Linked DNA regions of Homo sapiens: region 1 is linked to region 2. The links come from fine-mapping of genetic effects on gene expression. A gene starts in region 2. The other region holds a variant in brackets. All regions are shown on one strand. Distances are from middle to middle.

Region 1 (8,512 bases), 100 kb after region 2:
CCCCTCGCAGGGCTCTGCGCACCTCCCTGAGTGGAGATGAAAATCAACAACAGCCTCCTCTGCTCTAGGGCCCAGGAGGACTCTGACCTGGCTTAAAGGGCTACTCAGCTGAAGCCACAGTGCCACAGGTCTTTCCAAACCCCTCTTCTGTAATGGCAAACAGAGGAATGGCTGGCCTTCAAGCAGAGGCGGCAATGTCAAGGAGAAACATAGGCTGGCCGGGCGCAGTGGCTAATGCCTGTAATCCTAGCACTTTGGGAGACCAGGGCAGGAGGATCCCTTGAGGCCAGGAGTTCGAGACCAGCCTGGCCAACATAGTGAGACCCTCGTCTCTACAAAAAAAAAAATGAACAAAATTAGCTGGGTTTGATGGGGCATGTCTGTAGTCCCAGCTCCTCGGGAGGTTGAAGTGGGAAGATTGCTTGGGCTCAGGAGGTCAAGGCTGCAGTGAGCCAAGATGGCACCATTGCACTCCAGCTTGGACAACAGAGTGAGACCTGCCTTAAAAGAAAAAAAAAGAAGAGGAAACACAGGCTTTCAAGCCCTGCTTTCTGTAGCCAGCCTGACAGGTCTAAGAATTAAGTCACCTCTGTGACCAGTCCTCCCAGGCCTCCGGAGACCGGTGAAAAGCTGCCGTGTCTCTGGGGAGCCTGAACACCCCATTAGCAAATGGCCGGACCAACAGACGTGCCCCGTCAAGAGGGGCTCACAGACAAGTCAGAGGCTGCTTCTCTGCAGCCCTGAGCAGGGTCTGGCCCCAGTAGGGGTGGCGCCAAATGCTAACTGACCAGCACAGCTAATGACCACCTGGGGCAGTGTTTAATTTCATTTAAAAACACACCCTACAATTTGTCCATACCAAGAAAATGTCAACATATGTTAGATAAGTTTGTACAATTCTTCAGAAATACAGAACTTTTTGAGTCACTAAGTTATCCCCATAGCAAGCAACACAGACATGGGTCTGAGTAGGACAGAGAGGCAGCCAGGGTGGGCGCGGCCGCACCTGGGAGGTGGCCGTTCCGAGGAGTGGCTGGCTCGGGAGCTGGGCCGCTCGGGCTCGGGATAGCGGTAGTTCTGGGCGTAAGCAGACGCAGCACCATCATAGGGCCTGTATCGAGGCTCATAGAGGCTGTAGACATCCTGTGGGAGGAAGCATTTGGGCAGGATTAGACACCAATCAAGAGCAAGCTCGTCCAACAGCCAGCCTGAGCTGGAAACATTGCAGAGGGCGGGCAGCATTAGATACCTACCAAGAGCAAGCTCGTCCAACAACCAGCCTGAGCTAGAAACATCGCAGATGGCTGCTCTCCAGCAGGACTGAGCGTGGCCCTTCCCTCATACACAACCACACAGACCTCCAAAGCACAGCCACACCCACAGGCAGCAGGGTGTCCTAAGACCCACAGCCCTGGCCCTGTTCAGGAGACCTCTGGATGGACCCAGGGCACCAGCATGTCAGCAGACAACCCCAGGGGGCTGTGGCGACTTCTGGAAGGGGCTGTTAGGTTTCTGCTTCCTGATAAGTCCAGTGTGGAGATGCCATGATTTGAACAACCCCTGCGTCCCGCTTCAGATGCCACCTCAGTTAAGTCAGAGAACCAGGGTCCCAGTGAACAGAGCCCCAGCCAGGAGCAGCCTCTAAAAGCGGACCGTGCTTTATTCTCGGGAGGCTTCAGCCCCATCACCAACCAATTCGTGGCCACAGAATTGTTCCCAACGGGGCCCATGTGGACACATGAGGATCTGAAGACATGCAGTGCCCCGGACACACGCCAGAATTCACGCTTAAGCGCCTCAAAGCCTCAAGGCCTCGACGCTGCCGCTGCCTGGCAGGAAATGTGAAATCACAGCAAAACAGACTCATCCTTGGCCACCCGGACACCACAGCAAGAGGCACGGCGGGAGGAGTGCACTCCTGCGGAGGGAGGTGGCTCGCAGCAGGAGGACCGGACAAAGGACCCGAAGTGAGGCCACGGCTTCCCGTCGCTCTGCACCAGCCCCACCCCAGGGCTCCCAGCAGAGCTGAATGTCCTTGTATGGAAATAAAAAGTGCCTGGGCTCCTTCTGGAACCTACACAGGTCTGAGGGGTCAGGTGTGCACCTGGTCACACGCACACAAACCATGATGCTCGAGGCCCATGGGGGAGGCCCAGCCCCATTCCCCGGGGCAGTACCCAGCAAGCCACGGCAGCCTTGCTCCTCGGGGCGGGCCCCCTTCTGACTGCAAGGCCTTCCTGTGTGGCCCCAAGTCTGGTTCCAACTGGCCTTACATACCGCAAGACCATGGTTTTCCAATTCCCTATCACACAATCCTTCTACCTGGGGTGACACTGAATCGGTGAACCCAATCGGTGTATGTTGAACTGGGTTAGAGGGTAGGAAAAGCAGATAATGATCAAATGTGTACACAGACACTTTTCGAACGACTGCAGGATTATGCGGAACCTAACTCAAATGTCACTCATGAGCTGGTGTCCCTGTGAAAAAGAGGCACAGAAGAATCTTCTGCACGAGCACAGCCGGTCCCCGAGCCGCTGCCCGCACCACCACGTGCTGACAGCAGCTTGCGGGACTCCGCCTCGCTTAGCTGATGCGTGTGGCTCATGCTCCAAAACTATTTTCTCTCCATGTTTTTATTCTCCAGGGGCATTTAAAGGACTATGGTTATACCCAATGCTTCTGACGTAAGCTTCCAGAGGCTAGCCCAGCTTCCCAAGGCATGCAAGACAGAACTTTTCTGCAGACAGCCAGCAGGAGCAGGGGTGACAGCAAATGGAGGGCTCTTTTTGTCACATAAGCTGGGGAGGCTGGTTCAAATCCTAAGCAAGTATTATAAGCAATTCAAGATGCTAACGCGTGGTGTGAACTAAGGGTGGCCTGTGCTTGGGAGAGTAGGTTCTGGAGCCGGGAGCCCTGTCCTCAGGAAGCGTTACTGGAATACTGTTCTCACGCCTGCGGGACTGTGGGTGACCCCGGAACCAAGCGAACAAACACTACTAAGGAATACACTGTGAGTGAGACTCAACTGGTCAAAGCACAGACAGAAAAGTGGGTTACACATACGACTCGACTCTTACCTGGTAATAGAGGGAGGCTGCGCCAGGCTCCGGTGGGTACGGCAAAGAGTACTGAGGCTGGTAGGCATCGTACAAAGGCCGGTAGTAGTAGTAGGCGGCCAGGTCCTGAGGCGGTGGGCCGGGGGCAAGTGCAGGCACTGGCTGTGGCCACGGCTGCTCTGACGGCACAGCTGCCTGGCCGGAGCCACTGGACACCAGAGACACGCTAGAGGACTGAGGAGGCCGAGGGGGCAGCTGCTGACCCGCGTCGACCAGAACCAGACTTGCTGGTGACTGTGCTGAGTTCTGGGCCTGTCCCTGTGCGGGCAGACTTTCTGGATTTGACAGCTCCGAAAACATGGCTTTGGGTAGTTGTGGGGGAGAAGCCTGTTGCTGGGGTGGCACCAGCTCCTGCTGGGCTCTTTCGAGGCCAGGCTGGCCCTGGGCATCTTTCGTGACCTGCTGATAAAAACGGTCAAGGTTAGGCGCCCCAGGCCCAGATTGTCTGGGATGACTGGCAACACTTTGCTGAGAAGCGAGGCTGTCAGAATGGGACGGGTTGTACACGTTTACAGGATTTTCCAAAGTCCTGCTTAAGGTAAAGTCTAGGGCTCCGTAAGTGTCTTCCTGATGACTGGAATGGTTTGCCTTATTACCATCAGGCACCAGGGTGCCGTGTGCAGGTGGAACTAACACCACACTTGTGCTTCCAGCAGGGCTATTAGCAAATCC[G/A]GGAAGAGCACTTCCTGCCTTACGATCCTTTTGACTTTCTGGAACCAAGTTCTCTGGAACTGGCTGGGATGGTGGTTGAACCAGCAAATTAGCAGGCTGATTAGAAACCATTTCGGAAGCACCAGAACCTTGTGGAAAATTACTTTGGGCAACACTGCTAGGCAGAGACAAGCTAAGGACAGAGCTGGTTGGAATCCCAGACAAAGAAGTGTTCTCCCCAGAATCACCACCGAGAGCCCAACTGCTGACTGCAGGTCTATCCCCCACCAAAGCCTCTCTCCAGGACTGATTCTTCTCATGAGAGTTCGATAAGGACACAGAAAAGTTAATGGGCTGAGCCAGATTATAGCTGTGATCAGGCTGAGCAATCAAGACTGGAGGATTCTGCAGAGACTCAGTGGGCGGTGAGGATAATAAACTTGCATAACCAGAACTCGCCTGGGACTGAAGGGCCTCCTCCTCTCCCATTTTGGGAGGATTCTCAAGGTTCTCAGAAGCACCAATGCCACCTCGGCTCTGCACCGGGGCCGCCGAGCTTGGGTTCCGTGACTGCTGCCCGGACATCGCCTCTTCTGGAGGCTGAACAACAGGTGGCTGAGGTTTTGCACACACATAAAGCGCCGGGGCTGCAGGGGCCAGAAGGACGTTGCCTCCAAAATCTGGCAGCTCACTTTGCGCCCACAGAGTCGTTGCTGGGCTCTCACACTTCACGGGCCCCTGGGTCCTGGCTGAAGGCCTCTTCTCGGGTGCTGGATACACAGTATCCAAGGGCGGTGCCCCTGCGTGCGGAAGCATGTGCACAGCTTCCGTGGTGGAGTTAAGAGGCAGGGGACAGACCTGGGGTGCACAGAGGGTCTCCATGTTGTCTGGTGGCTGCTCCAGGTTGCCAGGGGAAGCATCGGGCAGGGCGGCAGCTGGTCTGCACTGCTTCTGGCGGACACAGGTCTCCCTTACTTCACCAACCACGTTGGCGCGATCTGCCTCAAATGGTTTTACCCCAACTAAGTGAGATTTTACCGGTTCGAAAGAACTATTTGCACTTGTCTGAAATATTCCTGTAGGTTTCGGGGGGCTCGGGGTTGAGGGCTGGGACACGCTGCCACGGTAATTCTGGCTCACAGTGGTCTCGTCTGTTTCACCTCCTACGGGAGAAGAATCGATTTGCTTAAAAAAACTACCTGAAGCTTCATCCTCGGGTTTTCCAACTTCTTGCTGAATGAATGTGCCAACCAGCTCCTGGGGCCTGGCTGAGCCTGAGAGCCTTCCGTGGCTTCTGCTGCTATAGCTGGATGACACGCTGTCAGGGTGCACTGTATGCAGTGTGGCATCAGGGGCTCCGGTGTGGCACACAGCACCATGCCTGGGCACAGCTGGCCCAGGAAGGGGCCCATATCTGAACTGGTCACTCGGGGAGGAAGGGTCCAAATTGAGGGGCTCACTTGGCAGAACTTCTTGATTCTGAACAAATTCTAAGTTCTCAACATTCTCATACTGCGAGCCGCTGGCATCCGGCACCCCTGTGCTCGCTGTGTCACCCCACACATCACCAGCAGCCTCATTGCTGGGGCCTGGGAGAAGGGCCTGGCAGAGGCTGCCTGCCCCCACGTGTGTAGGTGCGGGCGGACGGCCTAGCCCAGGGCTGGAGCAGAAATCGTCAAAGTCCGCTTGACCAGATAAGCCTGCTTTTTCAGATGAGAGATTCTCCTCATTTTCTGTCTCTCCCCCTTGGAAAAACATCGCCAGAGCTCCTGAAGCTCCTGAGTCTGCTTCTAGCGGGGCACAGCCAGACCCGGCCCCAGCCCCCAGTGGGTGGTGCGTACGGTTTTCTGGGCTATCTCCCCGGGCGAGGGGGTTCACAAGAGCAGAGGCGGGCCGGTGCTCATTCTTCACTCCTGGATTCTGCCTGAGCTCTGGGCTTGCCCAGTGATTCACAATTCTGGGATTTTGCCTGAATGTACTTTCAGGATCAGAGTTATTGGCCAGGTGGCTTCCACTTTGCAAGTGGCTCACCTCGTCTCTTCCGTCACTGGGCAAGGCTGCTGGGGGAGCCACCAGAGGGCTGTGTTGCTCATGACCAGGGCCCTGATGTAGGATGGACGGGGTGGGGAAATGAGGAACGCTGGTGGCACAGGGCACCCCGCTGGGAACAGGTCCTTCAGGGCAGGGTGAACGATGTTGCCCCGAGGGCTGTGGGCCTCCCTGCACTGGCCCCCACTGTCCTGGCATCTGCAGACCAGGCTGAGGGAGGGAAGGGGATGCTGCTGGGGTGACCACACCGTCATGTGGGTTTTGCCTGCTCAGGGGTCGGTCGAGCCCAGGCATGTTCCCATGAGGGTGGCCCCCATGAGACGTTTCAGGATCCACTCCTGGAATGTAGTGAGGAAGATATGGCAGAGTCTGAACTTCAGGCTCTGAACTGGGACCGACCTCTGCACTCCTGTTCATCTCAGGCCCAGGAGGTGCTGAAGGTGTCAATGCACCAGAAAACGGACTGGCATGTGCTCTGGGCTGTGTCAGAGGTCCAGGCAGGGGCTCACAGGGTCCCTGAGAGCTATCTCTGGCATGTGTGTGAGGAACAAGCAAACCGGGGTGCTGAGAAAACCCTGCGGGGGCTGGGCCTTGCAAGACAGGTGGACTGCTTTTGGACGAACTGCCCAGTGGTGTACTTTGGAGCGCCTGTCTACTAAAAGCAAATGGATCCGTGACCGGCTGCAACGGGCAAGTTGTCGGAGCCACTGCTGCATTATTATTAGCCCGTCTCCTGTAAGGGCTGCTAGCCCAGAACACGCTCCGAGGATTCCCGGCTGGAGGTGGCCCAGCCATGCCAGACGGGACCGTCTGGGGCGGTGGCTGCATGACTGAACCCTTGCACAAGTCGATGCTGCTTACAGAAGGAAGCAGGATATAGCTGTTCCTTAATTGGAGCTGGAAAAGAAAAAGAGAAAATCAGCATAAAATCCATATATTCAAAGTCCTAGCTGCAATCAGGAAAACTAAGGAAAAAGAGAAACATTGAACATGATTTTATGTCACTTAAATCCCAAGGACTCTCTCTCCCCTACACCCCACCCCAGCAGAGAACACCTGTCCCTGAGGAACTGTTCTGGGGGGCAGGGGACAGAGTGAGAACCCTGGATGGCCTGGCTGCGAGCTGATGGAGTATGTCTAGATGGCCACTCCCTCCCCTGGGATCCTCTACTCACAGGGCCCATTGCTGCCGCAGACCCGCGCCACAACAACAGGGACAGTGCGGAACCTGACCACTGCTGTGATATGCTACCAGACCCACAGATACTCAATGTTTTCCTGTAAACCATCCCTAGATCCAGGAAGAGCCAACTCTTCTATTAAGAAAGAAAAACTGGCCAGATATGGTGGCTTACGCCTGTACTCCCAACACTTTAAGAGGCCAAGGCGGGAGGACCACTTGAGCCCAGGAATTCGAGGCCAGCCTGAGCAACAGGGGGATCTCGTTTCTACAAAAAATACAAAAATCAGCCAGGCATGGTGGTGCACACCTGTAGTCCCAACTACTCAGGAGGCTGAGGCAGGAGGATTGCGTCAGCCTGGGAGGTTGAGGCTGTCGTGAGCTATGACAGCACCACTACCCTTCAGCCTGGGTGACACAGTGAGTCCCTAGCTCAAAAAAAAAAAAAAAAAAGGAAAACTTTATATCATACTTTCCATACATGTTAATTTTAAATTTCAAAAGGGATACAAAAGTTTAAAATTCATTCTTCCATTTTCTTTGATGAAAGAGCATTATGAAGTATAGTTATAAAAGCTGCAAAATAGGCTGGGTGCAGTGGCTCATGCCTGTAATCCCAGCACTTTGGGAGGTCAAGGTGGAAGGACTGCCAGAGCCCAGGAGGTCGAGACCAGCCTGGGCAACATAGCAAGACCTTGTCTCTACAAAAGAAGAAAGTTAGCCAGACATGGTGGCACACACCTGTAGTCCCAGGGACTCAGGGGGTTAAGGAAGGAAGATCACTTGTGTCCATGAGTTCGAGGCTGCAGTGAGCTATGATTATACCACCGCGGTCCAGCCTGGGCAACAGAGCAAGACGGTCTCTATTTTAAAAAAATAAATAAATAAAAAGTGACACAATCATTTTTTTAAAAAGCACTGCAAAATAAATATATTCATCTAAATGCCTTTTATCACACCTCTTCATAGGTCTCCGTTTTTGTACTGTGACTGGCTTAAGGTCTGAAAGGACCACCAGCAAGATGTTACCTTTGAACTGGAGCCGTAACTGTGCCTGGAATGGAAACTCCCAGGAAACTTAAAGCAGCTTTACAAGGCACAGACTGGATTCCAACACTTTCAACAACAGGCAGAATTGCCAAGAAACCTCTTACAGAAAAGAAAGGGGCAAAAACCTCCATCAGTTTTTAAATAAAACATAGTAGATACAAACTTGAATAGTTAACCTGGCCTCTTAAGGCAAAAATTCAAGGACTATATCTTTAGGAAAGTTCTTTTCTTTCTATCAGTCTTTCTTCTTGTCAGCACCACCCTCATGAACAAACAGATAAGTTTAGCCAATCAAAGGAAAAATTAAACCAAAGGGGAGGACTCTGTAGTTTAATCCACACATTTTTTTTTTTGAGACGGAGTCTTGCTCTGTCGCCCAGACTGGGGTGCAGTGGTGCGATCTCGGCTCACTGCAAGCTCCGCCTCCCAGGTTCATGCCATTCTCCTGCCTCAGCCTCCTGAG
Region 2 (8,000 bases):
ACCTCTGCCTCCTGGGTTCAAGCAATTCTCCTGCCTCAGCCTCCTGAGTAGCTGGGATTACAGGCGCCCGGAACCACACCAGGCTAATTTTTGTGTTTTTAGTAGAGACGGGGTTTCCCCATACTGGCCAGGCTGGTCTCGAACTCCTGACCTCAAGTGAGCCGCCTGCCTCGCCCTCCTAGAGTGCTGGGATTATAGGCGTGAGCCACCGCGCCAGGCCAATTTTTGCATTTTTTTGTAGAGCAGGGATCTCACCGTGTTGCCCAGGCTGCTCTGGAACTCCTGGGCTCAAGTGATCCGCCCGCCTCAGCCTCCCAAAGTGCTGGGATGACAGGCGAGAGACACCACGTCCAGCCAAGCTTTTTTTAAGATTAAAAAAAGCTACTGGTAAAACAAGACAGAATGTTTCCATTTTTGTAAAACAAAACCAAATATATAAATAGATAGATAGGTGATAGATGATAGACAGATGGATACATGGATAGATGACAGGTAAGTCTGTAAGGTGGAGCGGGAAGGTTGAACACGGTTTTCCCTGACAGTAGGCTGGGGTGGGGAAGTATTGACTTCATCATCGTTTACTTTTTTTTAGTGTTAAGTATTGCTTCTGTCATTTAAAAAACAGACCAGGTGTGGCAGCTCAGCTTGCAATCCCAGCACTTTGGGAGGCTGAGGCCGGAGGATTGCTTGAGGCCAGTAGTTTGAGGCCACCCTGGGTGACATAGCAAGACCCCATCTCAAAAACAAATAACAAAGATTAAAAATCCTCTGACAACTGCCCTCAAGGGCCGTGGCCCTGGTGCACCCACCCGCGAGTGGGGTGCTTTGTCCTGCCCCTGCGAGTGCCCACCTGGTCCCGCTCAATGGCGACCTCCTCCATCTGCAGCAGGATGGCCTCGATGCGGTCCTTGTACATCTTGGAGTCCTTACGTAGTGCCAGGCACTGCAGCTCGAACATCTCCTTCTCCTCCATGCACTGCAGGGGGCGGCAGCTCAGCCCCCACAGGCCTGAGGCCCCCCATTCTGGCCCTTGGGGTATACTCCGGGCAGGGGCTCAGAAGCATGTGGTCAGGCCAGTTGGGATGTCGGGGGAGGCCATAGGAGTCCCCAGGCCCCTACCAGCCCTGCACTTCCAGACCGCGGCAGGACAGGGCCCTCCGGCAGGCCTCAGACACTGCTGTGCCTCAGGCACCATGAGCCCAGAGGTTGGCCTTTGCCATGGGGGGCAGGCGGGCAAGGAGAGGGCACCGTCCACTGTGCCTCCAGGAGTGGGTGAGTGGAGGCGCTGCACTGGGGTCTCCACACCCCACCTTCCAGGCACGGAGTGGGCGGAGCTCAGCCCGTCCAGCCTGGCTTGGACCCCAGGGGCCATGTCTCCCCGCCTGCCCTCCTACCCGGAGGCGTCGGGCCTCGCCCTGGCGGAGGTCCTTGCGCAGGGAGAAGATGGTGTTGGCCTGCTCCTGGTGGTCCCGCAGCGCCTGCCGCCAGTCCTCCTCCAGTACCTGGATGTAGGGGCTGCTCCTGTCCAGCTTCCCCTCCTGAAGGGGGCAAAAGGCAATGGCCTGGCTGGGAAGGCCCCCACTGCCCTGCCTGGGCTGCACCTGCCCTGCCTACGGCCCCACCTGGACGGAGGCCTCCAGCTCCTGCACCCGGGCCTGGAGCAGGGCCTTCTCCTGCTGCAGCTCCCACAGCAGCTCCTGGCTGGGCCGCTGCTCCATGGCGTGCCTGAGCTTCAGCGTGTGCTTGCGCTCCACCTTGCAGTCGTCCTCGGCCTTCATGAGGCTGTGCTTGAGCTGGTCAATCTGCAGAAGGTCCAGTGAGCCTGGCTGTCCCCTCCAGGCGGTGACCGCAGACCCGTGGGGCCACCCCCGACCGCCCCGGCCTGCAGACCCCGCCAGGCCAGGCGAGGGTGGCCTGGTTTCCCGGGGGCAGCGGGCGCACCTCCAGCTGCAGGTCACGGTTCCGCATGAGCGCGGCGCCCTTCTCCTCACTCTGGTGCGCCAGGCGCATGGCCAGGTCGTAGTTCTCCTCCTTGCAGCGCTTGAGCTCGCGGCTGCCGGCCTCGCACTCCTCCTTGAGCCTCTGCACACGCTCCTGGTGCTTGCGCAGCAGGCTGTCCTTCACCCGCAGCTCCTTGATGAAGTCATCTTTGGAGCTCAGCAGCGCGGTCAGGTCCTGCACCTTCTTCTGCAGCTTCATGACCTCAGTCATCAGCAGCTGAGTCAGGCCTGACTCCCCGGACGCGTCTGTGGGCCAGGCCAGTGTCAGATGGTGCCGTGTTCCCCGGTGGCCCAGCTCCATCACGCCCTGCGCTGTGGCAGGAGCTCAGGGCTCCTAGGGATGGGGGCCAGGCAGAGGACCCAACACCACTGCCCGCTCCCCGCCAGCGCCTCCCCTGTCGGCCCCGCCTCCCCCGTCACTCACCGATGATCATGGAGAAGACGCGGGCCGGCTCCTTGCCTGTGACCTTCTTGTACAGCTGCGGGTAGTAGAGCTCCAGGCTCTCGAGGAAGGCCACGTAGCCCTTGTGGCCGGTCCGCTGCAGGATGTCCAGGAGCACACCTGCGGGCCAGAGAGGCCTAACTGGGGGCGGGGCACAGGCGAGGCAGAGGGCTGGGGTGGGTGGGCCTGGGGGCAGGGACAGGTGGAGGCTGGCATGCAGATGAGGTGTGCCGTGGTCTGGGTCTTGGATGAGGTACCCTGCGGGTCTTGGTACTAGGCTGGGGACCAAGTGCTGCCCACCCGCCCCTTGGCTGTCTCAGGAGCCCCCGCTGCGGTGGGAGCCCCGCTGCCCCTCTTGGCAGCACCAAGCCGGCAGGAGAGGCTGGGGGACGGGCCACGTGCCAGGGTTGAGGTTGGGCCTCAGTCAGAGGCCAGGGGCAAAGCCAGGCGGGGCTCTCCTGGGGTTGAGGGTCAGGGTGGCAGAGCGTGCAGCCACCTCCGAGCTGACTCTGTGGTTGGGTTTGGGGCCTGGGGCCCGCGGGGCAACACTGACCCACTTTCCGTTTGCGGATGACCAGGTTGGGGTCGCTGAGCACCTGCTCCTCATCATCGGGGTTCAGGACCTTGCACTGCCGCAGGTAAGGTGTGATGCGTGAGGGGTCGATGACCGAGGTGAGCGTCACCCGGAAGCCCTCCAGGACGCTCCAGCACTCGTCATCGTTCTCGTAGTCCGACATGGCCTCAGCAGGCAGGCTGGGGAGTGTGGGGCAGTGCTGAGAGCGATGCCGGCTCCTGCCCCCACCCGGGCCCAGCTCCCACTCCTTCTCAGACGCTGGGCCAGGGCTCTCGTCAGGGCATCGAGGGGGATCAGCCCAGGGGCATCCAGGAGAGGTGCCCAGCTCCATGTCCCATCCCCACGCTGGATCCCCCAGGGAGGCAGCAGAGACACAGTGACCCCGCTCCCCACCAGACCAGCCGAGGGCCCCTCCGCAGCCTTTCCCAGCCCTTGCTCCTGCCCGTTGGCATCCATGTCACCCAGATACGCAGCGGGGGAGGCACAGATGGGGTCTGAGAGAGGAACTCCCCCTACAGCATGACCCCCTCTGGCCTCTGCCTCCTGGACACTCCCATCACGCCCTGGAGCCTGCAAGGTTAGCCACCTCCATGGCTGGAATGGGCAGAGGAGCTGAGGGCAACTGCCTGGCACTATGGCCAGCCCAAGCTGGGTGAGAGCAGGTTGGCCAGTGGCCCTCCCACCAGCACAGCAGCTGGGGGAGCCGGTTCTTGTGGGACTTCCTCATTCCCCTGACCGACGCCTGCTCACATCCCTGGCTGTGCCCTCCCTCCTCCACGGCCGGCTGCTGATGATGCAAGAGTGGCCACCCAGCCCTGCTGCAGCTGCGGGGTCGCTGCACTGGCCGGGAAGAGCTGCCCACAGGAGCGTGTCTCTGTCACCCCCTGCCGGCCCCGCAACCCTGGGAGGGGCTGTCAGTGTTGCCCTTGGCTGGCCAGGAGTGCTGCTGCGGTGTTTTCTCCAGGTTGAGGTGCCGGGCACCAGTGAATCCCTGGACTCTTCTCCTGCCCCAGATGAGGCCCGGCCCCCATCCCAGTGGCTGCAACAGAACTACCCATGTTGGGACCAGCCACTGCTGTCCCTTTCTGCCAGCATGGTGGGGGCCTCAGCCGCTGAAAGCCACTCCCTCTGAGACTGGGACTGCGGCAAGGCTGGGAGCAGCCACGTGGTCCTCAGACAGCCTCCAGCCCCGCTGGGAAACGCTGGTTTCCAGCCCAGAGGAGCTGGGTCACTGCTCCTGGAGACATAGTTGCCCCAGGCTTGGTCTTTTGAGGCATTTCTCAACTTCCCGCTGCACTTTGTCACCCCATTCAGGACAGTTTTGACAGACAAGGGACTGAATAAAAACACTGGCCACACGGTAGACAGTCCTGGGAACACTGGGCCCCTTTCCTGCTTCCCCAGCTTGAAATGCAGGGTCCCATCTGCCACCGTAATTCCACTGAAATGAACACATCTCCGCCCAGGGGCCGTGAAAGGGACGGGGCCGCATGGCGGAGGCTGCCTGGCTGCCTGTGGGAAGCCTCAGGCTGCTCTGGGGGATCAGTGCCAGGATCCTGAACTAGGCCAACGCCAACCTTCCTGGCCACCTTTCAGAAAGCACCAGACCCACCCACCTGAGGGTCTTCCAGGAGCCACCTGCACTGCAGACACACCAGGAGCCTGGGCCGCGGAGCCTCTGGGAGATGCTGCCCGGGGCTGCAGGGAGGGAGGAGCACGCCGGACGCCTGTGCACTTCCTGATGGGTTCTGCTTAACTCCACAGTCCCGCCAGTCCTCCCACAGGGGGACAGTCCCTGGTGACCTGCTTTCTGATTCGCCCAGCCCAGGAGGCCCCAAGAGGCAGACGGAAGTGGAAGTCCGCTGCCCTCCAGAGGAAAGCTGCTCCCAGCCCTCCCAGCCTGGCCGGGGGCTGGGGGTCCTGGGGATGCCCCAGAGGCCCAGCCCTGGCACCTGGCAAGTAGAAGAGACAGCAGAGACCCCCAGGGGGCTGGACAAGGCCAGCCCGCACCCAGCCACTTTGACCTGGTCACAGGCTTCTGGAGACTTCTTCAGTAAGGCATGCTTTGCTCTGTGCGAACACCCTCGCCCTCGCCAGCATCTCAGGACAGCGGGGCAGGGCATGTGCAGGGGGGCACACAGCCACACGGCATGGCCAGCACACGCCTTGGTCACAGAAGGGCTGCAGCCCACCTTATGGAGCCCAGGAGGCCACAGCAGCCTGCCAGGGGCCATGGCATCGGCCACCACCCAGCTGCACACGGGGGAGAAACGTCCCTTCCAGAAGTGTCGTTATCCTCGTTATCCCCATCATGAGGCATCCCTGCTCTCCACCAGGATGCATGTGAGGACTGAGGCCACTCTCGGGGTCCCCCAAACCAGCTTCAGAAGAGCCGGTGACAGCAGGGCACAGCTCGGCCCCCATCCAGGGACAACGGACAGCAGAGTCTGCCCTGAACTGTGCACTTCAGCGTGTGGGCTGCCAGAGCCTCATCCCTGCAGGCTTGGGAACCCCCAGGCCCCGCCTCACCCGGTAAAGCTGGTTGAACTGAGTTGCCACCCAACAGGTTCGAGAAGGGGCCGCCAGGCTGGAAGGCAAGGAAGCTGGTGTGGAGCTTGCCTAACCGTTCTCAGCCTCCAGCCCTCAGGCCTCTGTGCGGACAACGTCTGACATCACACATTAAGGAGCGGACAGTTAGGGGTCCTCCTGGGCTCTCGGGAATGCCACATTCCAGGGGGCCGTGCCCCTGCTGGACCCCTCACCATCAACATGAGCGAGTGTGCAGGCCGGGGCCATCCTGGGCCCTGCCAGGGAGCGAACCGGAGCTGGCACCAGGCCCTCATGACCCAGTGTTTCCCCAGCGTTTAAAACGCGGACCTTAGTGACTTCCCTGTGGTGTGTGTCCTTAGGAGTGAACACACATACCATGTTCTCTAACCATATCGGAAGCTAAAAATCGGTAACAGATATCGGCAAAATCTCTAAATATTTGGAAATTAAATAATATACCGCTAAATAACCCACAGATCAGAGTGGCCCCCAGACTAGGCACCAGACTAGAGAACCAGGCACAGCAACACATACTCAGGAGTGAGGTCGGCCATGGGACCGTCCCGTCTGCCAGGTGCCCAGGGCTGAGGCCCCACAGTGGCTCCAGTGAAGGATCGAAGCCCAGATAGCCAAGGGCCTGGGGGCGCTGCTGCCACAGAGACAAAGGAAAGGGAGCTAGGGGACAGACGGAGAAGATGGGGGCTAGTCTTATGCCAATAAAGGCCCATGCAAAAGGAACAGTGGAGGGTGGGGGCTGCCGCCGTGTCGGGGTAGCCAGGTCATCTGTTCCAGGGAACCCCCTGGGTCAGCCAGGGCAGCGCGAGGGCTGGCAGCCATCTGGGGAGGGTGCCGGCTAGCCTGAAGGACAAAGCCACAGATGCTTTCCAGGAAATGGGCGAAAGAAAGCCTGCTTCTCTGACAGGAGGGCAGCCGGGGTACGGGAGGCCTTCCAGGACCCCAGCTCTGGGCCCCCAGCACCCTGCTTGTTCCCGAACTGCCTGCACTAGGGTGGCTCAGCCACTAGGCAGCAGCCTGACCCCAGCCAGGTGGGGGGTCCCTGTACACTGCCCGGTACCTCAGGACAACAAAACCACAACAGCCTGTGTCCAGCTCCACAATTAAAAACAGAACTTTATTCCTCCAAGTGTTCAGGTGTGCACTTGGGGAACAGCCATGCTCCATGCCACACAGTCAGTCGGCAGGCCCGCCTCTGTTCACTGCGGACCTGGTCAGTCAGCGGCCAGCAGATACCTGGCCTCTGGCTGCCTCTCTTGCAGGCTGGGGGTGGGCTGTCTCTCGTCAGCAGGGCCACGGGCTTCTGAGAAAGTGCTTGTCCTGGAACACAGGAACACCAGGTGGGGGGTGCCCTTGACCCCAGCCAGACCCCAAGCAGGGCTGGGACAGACAAACAGGAACCAAGACCACCCCAGCGCCGGCCACGCCCAGTCTGCTTGGTAAACCTGACCCACATGCGCCAAGGGCCAGGCCAGGGCACCAGGGCTCCAGCAGTGAAGAGCCAGCCTGGTGGCTGCGGTTGGGGATGGTGATCGTTTTACAAGCTGGGAGACGACGCAGCAATGCACGGGAACAGGGCACCACCAGAGCACAGCGGCCAGGGAGGAGCCCAGACCCCAAAGGCAGGGAATGAGCCTATGGTCAGGGGCACAGTGGTGCCAAGGCCCGAGGCATGGGTGGCCAGCAGGAAGGATGTGGGTTAAATGCTTCTCCCCCTGGAGGGCCTCCATGACCCTGGACCTGCCCACCTAACCCAGCACACCTGCTGTGAGCGCCAAAGAGCCGAGCAGAGGCCAAGGCCCCCTGCCATCTGGACACCACTCTGTCCCCTGGGTTGTAGGGCAGTGGCCTCCCCACTCAGGACTCACCTGCTGCTCACACCAGCCGCCTCCGCTTCCGGGTGTGCCTGGCATGCCGGGTTCTGAGCACGTCCAGGTCGTCAGGGTCATTAGAAGTATCCAGGCAGGAGGAAGCAGAGCATTTACCAGAGTCTGGGGCTCCCTGAAAGAAAATCCAGGCAGTGGGGACAAGAGTGACACCCCCGAGCCATGATGGACGGGGAAGGGACGGGAGTGAGGAGGGGCCCTGTGGGTGAGTGTCCCACTTGGGACAGGGCACCCTCAGCTCAGGCGGGAGCTGCTCCAGGCACTCCTGGGGCCACACGTGACTGTGCACTCCCTCCCTCGGGGGCTCTGACCCCATCCAAGCCATCCCTCTGGTGGGCCTCCCACTCCCCCATGGGACAGCCATCACACCCAGGCAGGGCAGGAGGCTGTACATGGATGGGGCACAGAGGGCCTCTTCCCCTGGCTGGCCGGGGTCCTCCCCAACTCTTGGACATTGCTTCCTCCCACACTTCAGCCCAGGGACTTGCGAGACACAACCCTGGGGAGAGATGGAAGGCCCTCTGCCACACTCC

Which allele goes with the higher level. Positions count from the first base shown, and alleles are read on the strand shown. Sizes are in standard deviations (SD) of each study's normalised expression.
For the expression in subcutaneous fat of the gene that starts at base 4,770 in region 2, G is the low allele of the variant in region 1 and A is the other (moderate effect, 0.73 SD a copy in TwinsUK).

Evidence for each region. PIP is the estimated chance that this variant, and not a neighbour inherited with it, causes the effect.
Region 1: its variant is the best candidate, but not a certain one, in a credible set for the expression of CARD9 in subcutaneous fat (TwinsUK, PIP 0.83).

The regions. Positions count from the first base shown.
Region 1 is chr9:136,470,969-136,479,480 of GRCh38, forward strand. It overlaps SEC16A (SEC16 homolog A, endoplasmic reticulum export factor), which reads right to left. Exons shown (of 32, transcript NM_014866.2): 2 at 7,741-7,862; 3 at 3,081-6,716; 4 at 1,007-1,143. The coding sequence starts at 6,647. Among named protein-coding and RNA genes, the nearest start is that of SEC16A, 7.8 kb to the right of the region's middle. The variant G/A (reference allele first, on the strand shown) is at 3,792.
Region 2 is chr9:136,368,900-136,376,899 of GRCh38, forward strand. CARD9 (caspase recruitment domain family member 9) reads right to left here and starts at 4,770. Exons shown (of 13, transcript NM_052813.5): 1 at 4,633-4,770; 2 at 2,996-3,195; 3 at 2,425-2,562; 4 at 1,942-2,246; 5 at 1,623-1,802; 6 at 1,395-1,538; 7 at 851-976. The coding sequence starts at 3,179. SNAPC4 (small nuclear RNA activating complex polypeptide 4) reads right to left here. Exons shown (of 24, transcript NM_003086.4): 23 at 7,450-7,582; 24 at 6,672-6,901. The coding sequence ends at 7,457. It overlaps LOC124902309 (a long non-coding RNA gene), which reads left to right. Exons shown (of 2, transcript XR_007061863.1): 2 at 1-398. RefSeq lists enhancers at 4,638-4,932, 4,952-5,665.